Regions from separate parts of the Homo sapiens genome. Here region 1 is linked to region 2. Evidence: fine-mapped expression QTL. A gene starts in region 2. The other region holds a variant in brackets. All regions are shown on one strand. Distances are between the middles of the regions. Region 1 overlaps LINC03036 (long intergenic non-protein coding RNA 3036). Region 2 holds the start of DENND10 (DENN domain containing 10).

Evidence for each region. PIP is the estimated chance that this variant, and not a neighbour inherited with it, causes the effect.
Region 1: its variant is the best candidate, but not a certain one, in a credible set for the expression of DENND10 in blood mononuclear cells (TOPMed, PIP 0.76).

The regions. Positions count from the first base shown.
Region 1 is chr10:119,019,534-119,023,920 of GRCh38, forward strand. All of the region lies in intron 2 of LINC03036 (long intergenic non-protein coding RNA 3036), which reads right to left. Among named protein-coding and RNA genes, the nearest start is that of LINC03036, 7.8 kb to the right of the region's middle. RefSeq lists enhancers at 2,774-3,416, 3,417-4,059. The variant C/T (reference allele first, on the strand shown) is at 1,904.
Region 2 is chr10:119,101,589-119,105,975 of GRCh38, forward strand. It overlaps DENND10 (DENN domain containing 10), which reads left to right and starts at 2,525. Exons shown (of 9, transcript NM_207009.4): 1 at 2,525-2,609. The coding sequence starts at 2,555. RefSeq lists a silencer at 2,314-3,093 and an enhancer at 4,235-4,387.

The DNA of each region.
Region 1 (4,387 bases), 82 kb before region 2:
TGTGCACCTCTAGTCCCAGCTACTTGGGAAGCTGAGGTGGGAGAATCACCTGAGCTGGGAAGGTTGAGATTGCAGTGAGTTGTGATCATGCCACTGCACTCCAGCCTGGGTGACAGAGCAAGACCCTGTCTAAAAAAAAAAAGAAAAGAAAGAAAGTTATACCCTCTATTTCCTTTCTCTTTTTTTCCAAATTGGTTCCCTAAAAATGTTAACTTACATGCTTAACCTCTCAAAATCTAAATTTAATTAATATTGATAGTCAAGATTTTCTCCAAAATAATCCATAGTATAGGAGATAGGGAAAAAAAAAAACAGGTGTGGAGATAGTTAAAAATAAGAGTAGCCAGTTATTAAGGGTAAACTGGGTTAAGATTCATTATGCTGGCCGGGTGTGGTGGCTCACGCCTGTAATCCCAGTACTTTGGGAGGCCAAGGTGGGCAGATCACAAGGTCAGGAGATCGAGACCATCCTGGCTAACACGGTGAAACCCCGTCTCTACTAAAAATACAAAAAATTAGCCGGGCGCGGTGGCAGGCGCCTGTAGTCCCAGCTACTCGGCAGGCTGAGGCAGGAGAATGGCGTGAACCCGGGAGGCGGAGCTTGCAGTGAGCCGAGATTGCGCCACTGCACTCCAGCCTGGGCGACAAAGCAAGACTCTGTCTCCAAAAAAAAAAAAAAAAAAAAAAGATGCATTATGCTATGATCTTTACTTCTGTAATTCTTGAAATTTCCCATAGGTTATAAAATATTAAAGTTAGTATCTTTCCCCTCTCCTTGAACAATATAAGGGTTTTGGAGCACTTCACTCCAGTCTCTCACTCCTGATGCTTGTTCTATTATTGCTGGGTATTTTTGTTGCACTTGGCTCTTTTTTTGTTTTAATGACAAATTAAATAACATCATTATTATTAGTTTGGTGCAAAAGTAATTGTGGTTTTTGCCATTAAAGAGTTAAAACCGCAATTACTTTTGCACCAACCTAATATTTTAAGTATGTTGAGTCTCCCACACAAGTATGCCTTTCTTTGCTCACTAATCCTCTTTGCAACTCAGACCCTTCCTCTGCAATCACTTTCCATCTGCCTGAGGGACACACACACACACACACACACACACTTTGTGTAGTGCTCCCTCACCTCACAGCTTCCCCTGTACTGTGTCAGGTCCCAACTGACAGAGGAAACCTGACCTCCCCAGCCCAGCTGCACTCTGGCTATGCCAAGGTCTTGGGAGTCATGACACACCCGTGTGTGGGTGGGGTGCTGTTGCCAGGGAGTTCACAGCCCTCTGCACTTTCCCCGTGGTAAGCTGAATAATGACCCCAAAAGGCATATTAATTCCTACAACCTGTGGATCTGTTACCTGACATGGCCAAGGAGAACTGAGGTTCCAGGTGGAATTAAGGTTGCTAATTAAATGATGTTAGAATAGGGGCCTGGCGCAGTGGCTCACACATGTAATCCCAGCACTTTGGGAGGCCGAGGCAGGTGGATCACTTGAGGCCAGGAGTTTGAGACCAGCCTGGCCAACATGGCAAAACCCTGTCTCTACTAAAAATACAAAAATTAGCTGGGCATGGTGGCACGCACCTGTAATTCCAGCTACTCGGAAGGCTGAGGCAAGAGAATCGCTTGAATATGGGAGGCAGAGGTTGCAGTGAGCCGACATTGCACCACTGCACTCCAGCCTGGGTGATGGAGCGAGACTCTGTCTCAAAAACAAACAAAAAAAGATGTTAGAATTGGGAGATCATTCTGCACATTCTGCATTATCCCAGTGAACCCAGTGGGACCACCAGGGTCCTGGAAGGTGGAGGAGGGAGACAGAAGAAAGAACAAAGAGGTGCCACGTGGAAAGGACTCAGCTACCTGCTATCCCTGGGTTTTGAGAAGGGAAAGGCCA[C/T]GAACCACAGGAATGGCAGGCAGCCTCCAGACGCTGGGAAAGGTAAGGAAACAGGTTCCCCGCCAAGAGCCTCCAGAGGGAATTCAGCCCAGTGAGACCCACTGTGGACTTCTGACATCTAGAGCGCTGAGAAAATCAGTGTGTTGTTTTCAGCCACTATATGGGTGGTAATTTGTTACAACCGCAACAGGAAGCGAACCTGCCCCCACCAAGTGTCATCGCCTGTTTACTTGTCTGTCTGCCCAATTCGAGTGTAAGCTCCATGAGGTCAGAAGTACGTCAGTCTTATTTGCCACTTATCCCCAGACCTTGATGGTAAATAAATGAATTTTAGAGATGGAAAGGGCCAAGAAATCACTTAGGCCAGCCCAATTATTTTAAACTGAAATTTAAAACTAAGATCCAGAGACAGGAACTGATTTTGCTCGAGGCTACTCAATTTATACAGAGCTTGGATCCTCCATCCGCTCCCTGGGGCCCACCTGCCTTCTGGTCACTAAGCCGTAGAAGCCTGAAGACAGACACAACTGTGGAGAGGCAGCTCCGAGCACACAAAATCCCTGGAGAACTCAGGACGGCTGGGAGAGGATCAGTGCAAATCAGATAAGACCAGAAGAAGATGGCTAAAATGACTTGAGCAATCTTTAAAATGTTAGTCCCGGCCCAGCGAGGTGGCTCACGCCTGTAATCCCAGCACTTTGGGAGGGTGAGGCGGGCGGACTGCTTGAGCCCAGGAGTTCTAGACCAACCTGAGCAACATGGCAAAACCCCATCTCTACTAAAAATATGAAAATTAGCCAGGCGTGGTGGTGCATGCCTGTAGTCCCAGCTACTCAGGAGGCTGAGACAGAAGAATCGCTTGAACCCAGGAGGCAGAGGTTGCAGTGAGCCAAGCTCGTGCCACTGCATTCCAGCCTGGGCGACAGAGCAAGACTGTCTCAAAAATAAAGTTAAATGTTAGTCCCAAGGGGCAGCTGATCCACCAGTAACAACCAGGGCAGAACTGTGCCCAGCACCTGATCAGCTGAATTCAGGAGACTCTCCACCTGAAGCTTCAGAATGGGGAAACAAGAAAAGGGGTACTAATGTCAAACTTGAGGCCCGCCTTCAAGAAGCTCAGCATTTCACACCTCGGCCAGAGCCAAAGCTTTGGGCTTTGAGCAAATTAGGAAAAGACACTTCTTCCACAAGGTATCTTTTTCCATCTGTCAGTGAAGTGTCATAATATACTGATTTCGTTAGAAGATACTTTACTCAAGGTCGGCCAGAAAATGATCACAGAGTTACTATGTCTATGAAGTAAAGGTGCCCCCTTAGATGGGAAGCGGTTGTGCAGTACACAACCTGCAGAACTGTACACAACCTGCAGAACCACACATAGCATTCTTTGCTTGGCAGTCTGGTCCCATCCTTTCCACAGCCCTCATATCCCCGCTTCCCCTCCCTCTGCCTAGAGCCCTCAGACCTGTTGGAGAACAGTCTCAATCTACAGGTTACCATTTTACATGTAACTCCTTCCTGTCAGCTTTTTACTTCCCTCCCCCTGCAGACAGCAGGGATTGACGACGGGTGAGAGAAGGCTGATGGCCCCATTTAGGGAAGCACAGGAGGAGGTGGGGAGGCCGGATGTAGTGAATTCCAAATGAATGAGTATCCACGGGCCAGGGGATGATCAAGGAGGTGTGAGGGTTAACAGTGCGGGCCTTGAAGAAATGCCACCTACCAGCTAGCTGTGAGCTGCTGGGCATGCTTTTAGCCTCCCAAAACCTCATTTTCCCTTTTGTGAAATGCTTATCATTGTAGGCCTGCTGGGAGGATTTCAGAAATGATATGAGTGAATGCTTAGTGCACGGTAAGGGCTCAGCACCTGTGAGCTACTGTTATTGCTATTATCAGCATCATCAGCCCAGGGACATCTGCCCTTCCGCCTGTCAGCCTCCAGGCAGCTCCTGCTTTAAACAAAATTGGGACACTCCAGATTTCTAAAAGAAAACCACATGGCAGGGAGGAGGGCAAGTGCTGGAGGGAGAAAGGATTACTCACTTTACCAAAGTACCCACTACTGGATAAACAGAAACACCCAGACTGCTTTTAAATGGGGTTGGTTTTGTTCAGGGGACATTGCTGACACGGACTGGAATGTGTCCTCTCCTGCCCCTGCCGCTGTGTGTTGCTGGCCAGTCTCCCGCACATCTGGACCCCAGAAGTCCCAAGAATGACCGGGTGCATCCAAGGAGGCACAAACCCAGGTTCGGGGAGTGAGAGAAAAATGGGTGCAAATCTCAGTCCTGCTGCTCCTGAGCTTCTCAGCCTTGGGCTCCATGCTGAGCTTTGCCCCCGTCTCCAACAGGTCACCAGCGCACCTGCCTTGCGGGGCAGGGTTGGGGGTGGGGGGCACATGGAATAGTGCATGTCAAGCACCTGGTGCTGATGGTGGTGGTATTATTACCAGCTGGGAGACTTTAGCCCAAGGCAGGGGGTGTG
Region 2 (4,387 bases):
GTTGGAACTCAGGTTGTCTGTTTCCACACCCCAGCTCCATCTGTCTGTGACAGCGCAGAGGTCAGTCTTACTTTTAAAGATTGGGGATGCGTCGCCTCTGCTCTCTCCACCCTCTATTCCTTTTCCCTTCACTCTGGTGTACCTGTCTGGCAGGTAAGACAGCACTTGTGGAGAAACAGGAGGGAAGGAGGTGTCAATTCCAGGTATCATCCCACTCACTGGAGCCTGGACACACCCCTCATTATCTTTCCCCTCCCTGCACCCACTATCATCTCCCTCTCCTTTGTTTAATTATCTGTTCATCATCGTCTTCATCCTCATTTCTTTTCTTTTTTTTTCTGAGATGGAGTCTCACTCTGTCGCCCAGGCTGGAATGCAGTGGCGCGATCTTGGCTCACTGCAACCGTCCTCTCTTGGGTTCAAGCCAGTCTGCCTCAGCTTCCTGAGTAGCTGGGATTACAGGCACCTGCCACCATGCCTAGCTAATTTTTGTGATTTTTTGTTTGTTTGTTTTTGAGATGGAGTCTCGCTCTGTCGCCCAGGCTGGAGTGCAGTGGCGTGATCTCGGCTCACTGCAAGCTCCGCCTCCCGGGTTCACGCCATTCTCCTGCCTCAGCCTCACAAGTAGCTGGGACTACAGGCACCTGCCACCACGCCCGGCTAATTTTTTGTATTTTTAGTAGAGACAGGGTTTCACCGTTTTAGCCGGGTTGGTCTCAATCTCCTGACCTCGTGATCCACCCACCTCAGCCTCCCAAAGTGCTAGGATTACAGGCGTGAGCCACCGTGCCCCACCTAGTGCAAGTTTCTAGTTGGCTTCCAAACTGATTCCACATCTGTGTCCCACTCCTCAGCCTCTAAACACCTGCTTCTTTTCTGTGAAAACTAGACACATTAACAGTTATACTACAACAGGAAGCCCAGAGAATAGAAGGGCACGTAGTTCAGGGTGCTGCCTTCCAGGGGTTCAGTTTAGTGAGAGAAACAGGAATGCCATATACACACCTAAATATACTCCAATGTATAAATTGCAGCCTGGGCAACATAGCGAGAAACTGTCTCCAAAAAAAAAAGAAAGAAAAAAGAAAAAAACAGGCGCAGTGGCTCACGCCTGTAATCCCAGCTACGCAGGAGGCTGAGGCAGGAGAATCCCTTAAAACCGAGAGGCGGAGGTTGCAGTGAGCCGAGATCGCGCTATTGCACTCCAGGCCGGGCAACTGAACAAGACTCCATCTCAAAAAAAAAAAAAAAAAAAGAAAAAAGAAAAAAAGATGAGGGTGGGATTGTATTCCTGCAGACACCAAGGACCCTCCCTAATTAGCTCTGTGTGACTTGGGGTTGGGGCAGACAGTAGATCCAGAGGAGGAATCTTGGAGCCAAATCTTCCAATGTCTGAGTCGTTACTATCATTCAGATCTCAGTTCAAATATCCCTTTCTCAGAGAAGCCTTTCTTGACACCCATTTTAGAGCAGCACACCTCCACTCTCTAACACACTGCCTCCAGGGCACATATCGTTGCCTCCAGGGCACATATCATTCTGAGCTTTTTTACTATTATCTATCTATCTGTCATCTATTTATCTATTTATTTATTTTTGAGACAGGGTCTCACTCTGTCACCCAGGCTGGAGTGAGTGGCAGGATCACAGCTCACTGCAGCCTCAAAATCCTGGGCTCAAATGATTTTCCTGCCTCAGCCTGAGAGTAGCTGGGACTACAGGTGCATGCCACTATGCCTGGCTAATTTTTAAATTTTTTTTGTAGAGATGGGTCTCACTATGTTGCCAAGGCTGATCTCGAACTCCTGACCTCAAGTGATGCTCCTGCCTTGGCCTCCCATCGTGTTGGGATCAGAGGCGTGAGCCACCTCACCTGGCCTGGATTATTTATTCTACTCGCCAATTGTCTGTCTTCCCCAGTGGACTGCTCTGTCTTGTTCAGCCCTATAAGGTATCCCCAGTGCCTTATTAGGCCCTCAATTTTTGTTTTGTTTTGTTTTGGGGGTGGCTGGATGAAGGAATGGATGGAGACCCTTCCTCCATCCTCAGGACGCCTCTTTTTAGGAACAAGGTGACCTGTTCTTTTGAGCTTGACCAGAGGGCAGAGGTAGAACAAGGAAAGCCTACGACGGGAAGAAAGATTGGAGTGGATTGAGAAGAAGAAGGATGAACAGCTGGATTAGAGAAATTGAGGCAGGCTGCGGAGACTCAAGGAGGTTTCCAAGGGCGAAGGGCCACGGGCAGAAGACGAGTGGAGCTGCACTGAGCAGGTCCTGGCAGGGAGGACTGGGGCTGGAATAGGTGGGCCTGCGGGTGGGGCGGGGCCGACGGGGGGGGTTGATGGTCCTGTGATGGGGCGGGGCGGGAGGGAGGCGGGTCCTACAGCGGGAGGCGGGGCCTGTGATGGTCCGGGGAGGGAGGCGGGGCTTATGATGGGCCGGGGAGGGAGGCGGGGCCTGTGATGGGGGCGGGCCCTACGGCGGGCGGGGCGGGGTTCGGGTGCGAGGCCGGTCCTGCAGGCGGCAGCCAGAGCTGCGCGCCGCGGCGGCGGAAGATGGCTGCGGCCGAGGTGGCGGACACTCAGCTGATGCTTGGAGTCGGGCTGATCGGTGAGGACGTAGGCGCCCTGCCTGGAAGCCCGCACCCTGGTTCTGCCTCTGCTCCACCTCGGCCCGGGGCAGCCCGGGCTCCCGCGGCCCCCGGCGCCGACCGCATGAGGAGGGCGCGGCCCCCTCCCTGTTGGGCCTGGACTGGGGACTGCGGAGCCCGGCCTCCTTGGTGCAGGGGACCCGGCCCGCCGCCCTCGCCCGCCCGCCCGCGGCCGCCTGTGGGGCCTGCCCGGCCCGAGGGAGCCCGGGGACCTCCAAGATTCCGGGGTGGAGCTCCCCCTGCACGCCCCGGGTTGCCCGGCGGAGCCGGGACGTCGAGCGCTCCCAGGCTGGGCAGCTGCGAGGGGCGCTGCGCGGGCGGGGCCGGGCCGGGCGGGAGCAGCCGGCTGGCGGCGCGGCGCGGCGCGGCGGGGAGGAGGCAGGGTCCGGTTCCCCCGAGCCGGGGGCGGGCGGCTGCCTCGGAGCCACGGGTGACTGCCCGCCCGGGCGGCCCCCATCGTGGGACCGGGCAGCTGGAGACTGCTGGGCCGGGTGCTGCGCGTTGTACACACATTGTCTCCTTTTAGCTCTCACCAAGGACCGAGGGGCCGTGGGAAACGTCTGACGCCCACTTCACGGAGGAGCAAATGGAGGCCCAGGCCGTCATTGTGCACGGACACACCATAGGCCGTACAGAGCCGGGAGTGGGACCCTCGCAGTGTATCCCAGAGCCCCCAACCCCCACCAGTGGAGAGCTCCTGCATCATGTGATCGAGCTTGTGCATAAATAAAGCAGGAGTTTCTACACAATCCTGTGTGGTGGAATCTCGGTTAGCTCTGAGGAATGTAATTATCTTCCATAATTAAAAAATATCACACGGGGATCTTTGGGCAGCCTCGTGCAGTATTTAGGGGATGGAACCCGTTGGTTCCCTTCGAAAAAGTTTTATTTTCCCGAGATTTTTGCACACCCCTAAACTCTTTCTATTCCCCAAGTGCGCAATAACATTGCTTAGGCTTTAGCAAAACTGAAGAAATATGCTGATTATTTTTCAGTGCCTCAAAGCAGTGCGTTTATGTGGGAATCGCTTACTGTTTTTATTTCTTTGTCTTTCTTCTTTTTTTTTTTTTTAGACGGGGTCTCCCTCTTATCCAGGCTGGAGTGCAGTAGCGCAATCATCGCTCTCTGCAGCCTCCACCTCCCAGGCCCAAACCATCCTCCCGCCTCGGCCTCCGAGTAGCTGGGACCTCAGGCGTGCACCACCACCCGATTAATTTTTGTATTTTTTGTGGAGATGGGATACCGACATGTTGTCCAGGTGGATTACTGTATTTATTTCTAATGTGATTTTCAAACTGCTTCAAAACAAAACCTAAGTAACTTAGTTTCTCCAGAAGGTACTTTTGAACTAAGGCTAAGTTAAACTGTCTTTATCTACTAATAGCAAATAAAAAGATGACATATGATCATATTTTGAACTCAGCAGTTTTTTAATTATTCACACTAACGTGCATTTAAAAGGGGTTTGCAGCCAGCCTGGGCAATGTGGTAAAACCCTCGTGTCTCTACAAAAAATACAAAAATTAGCCGGGTGTGGTGTGCCTGTAGGTGGGAGGATTGCTTGGTCCCAGGAGGCAGAGGTTGCAGTGAACTGAGATCATGCCACTGTACTCCAGCATGGGTGACAGAGTGAGACCCCCCCCAACCCCGTCTCAAAAAAAGAAATTGAAAAAAGAGGCCAGGCGTGGTGGCTCATGCCTGTAATCCTAGCACTTTGGGAGGCTGAGGCAGGTGGATC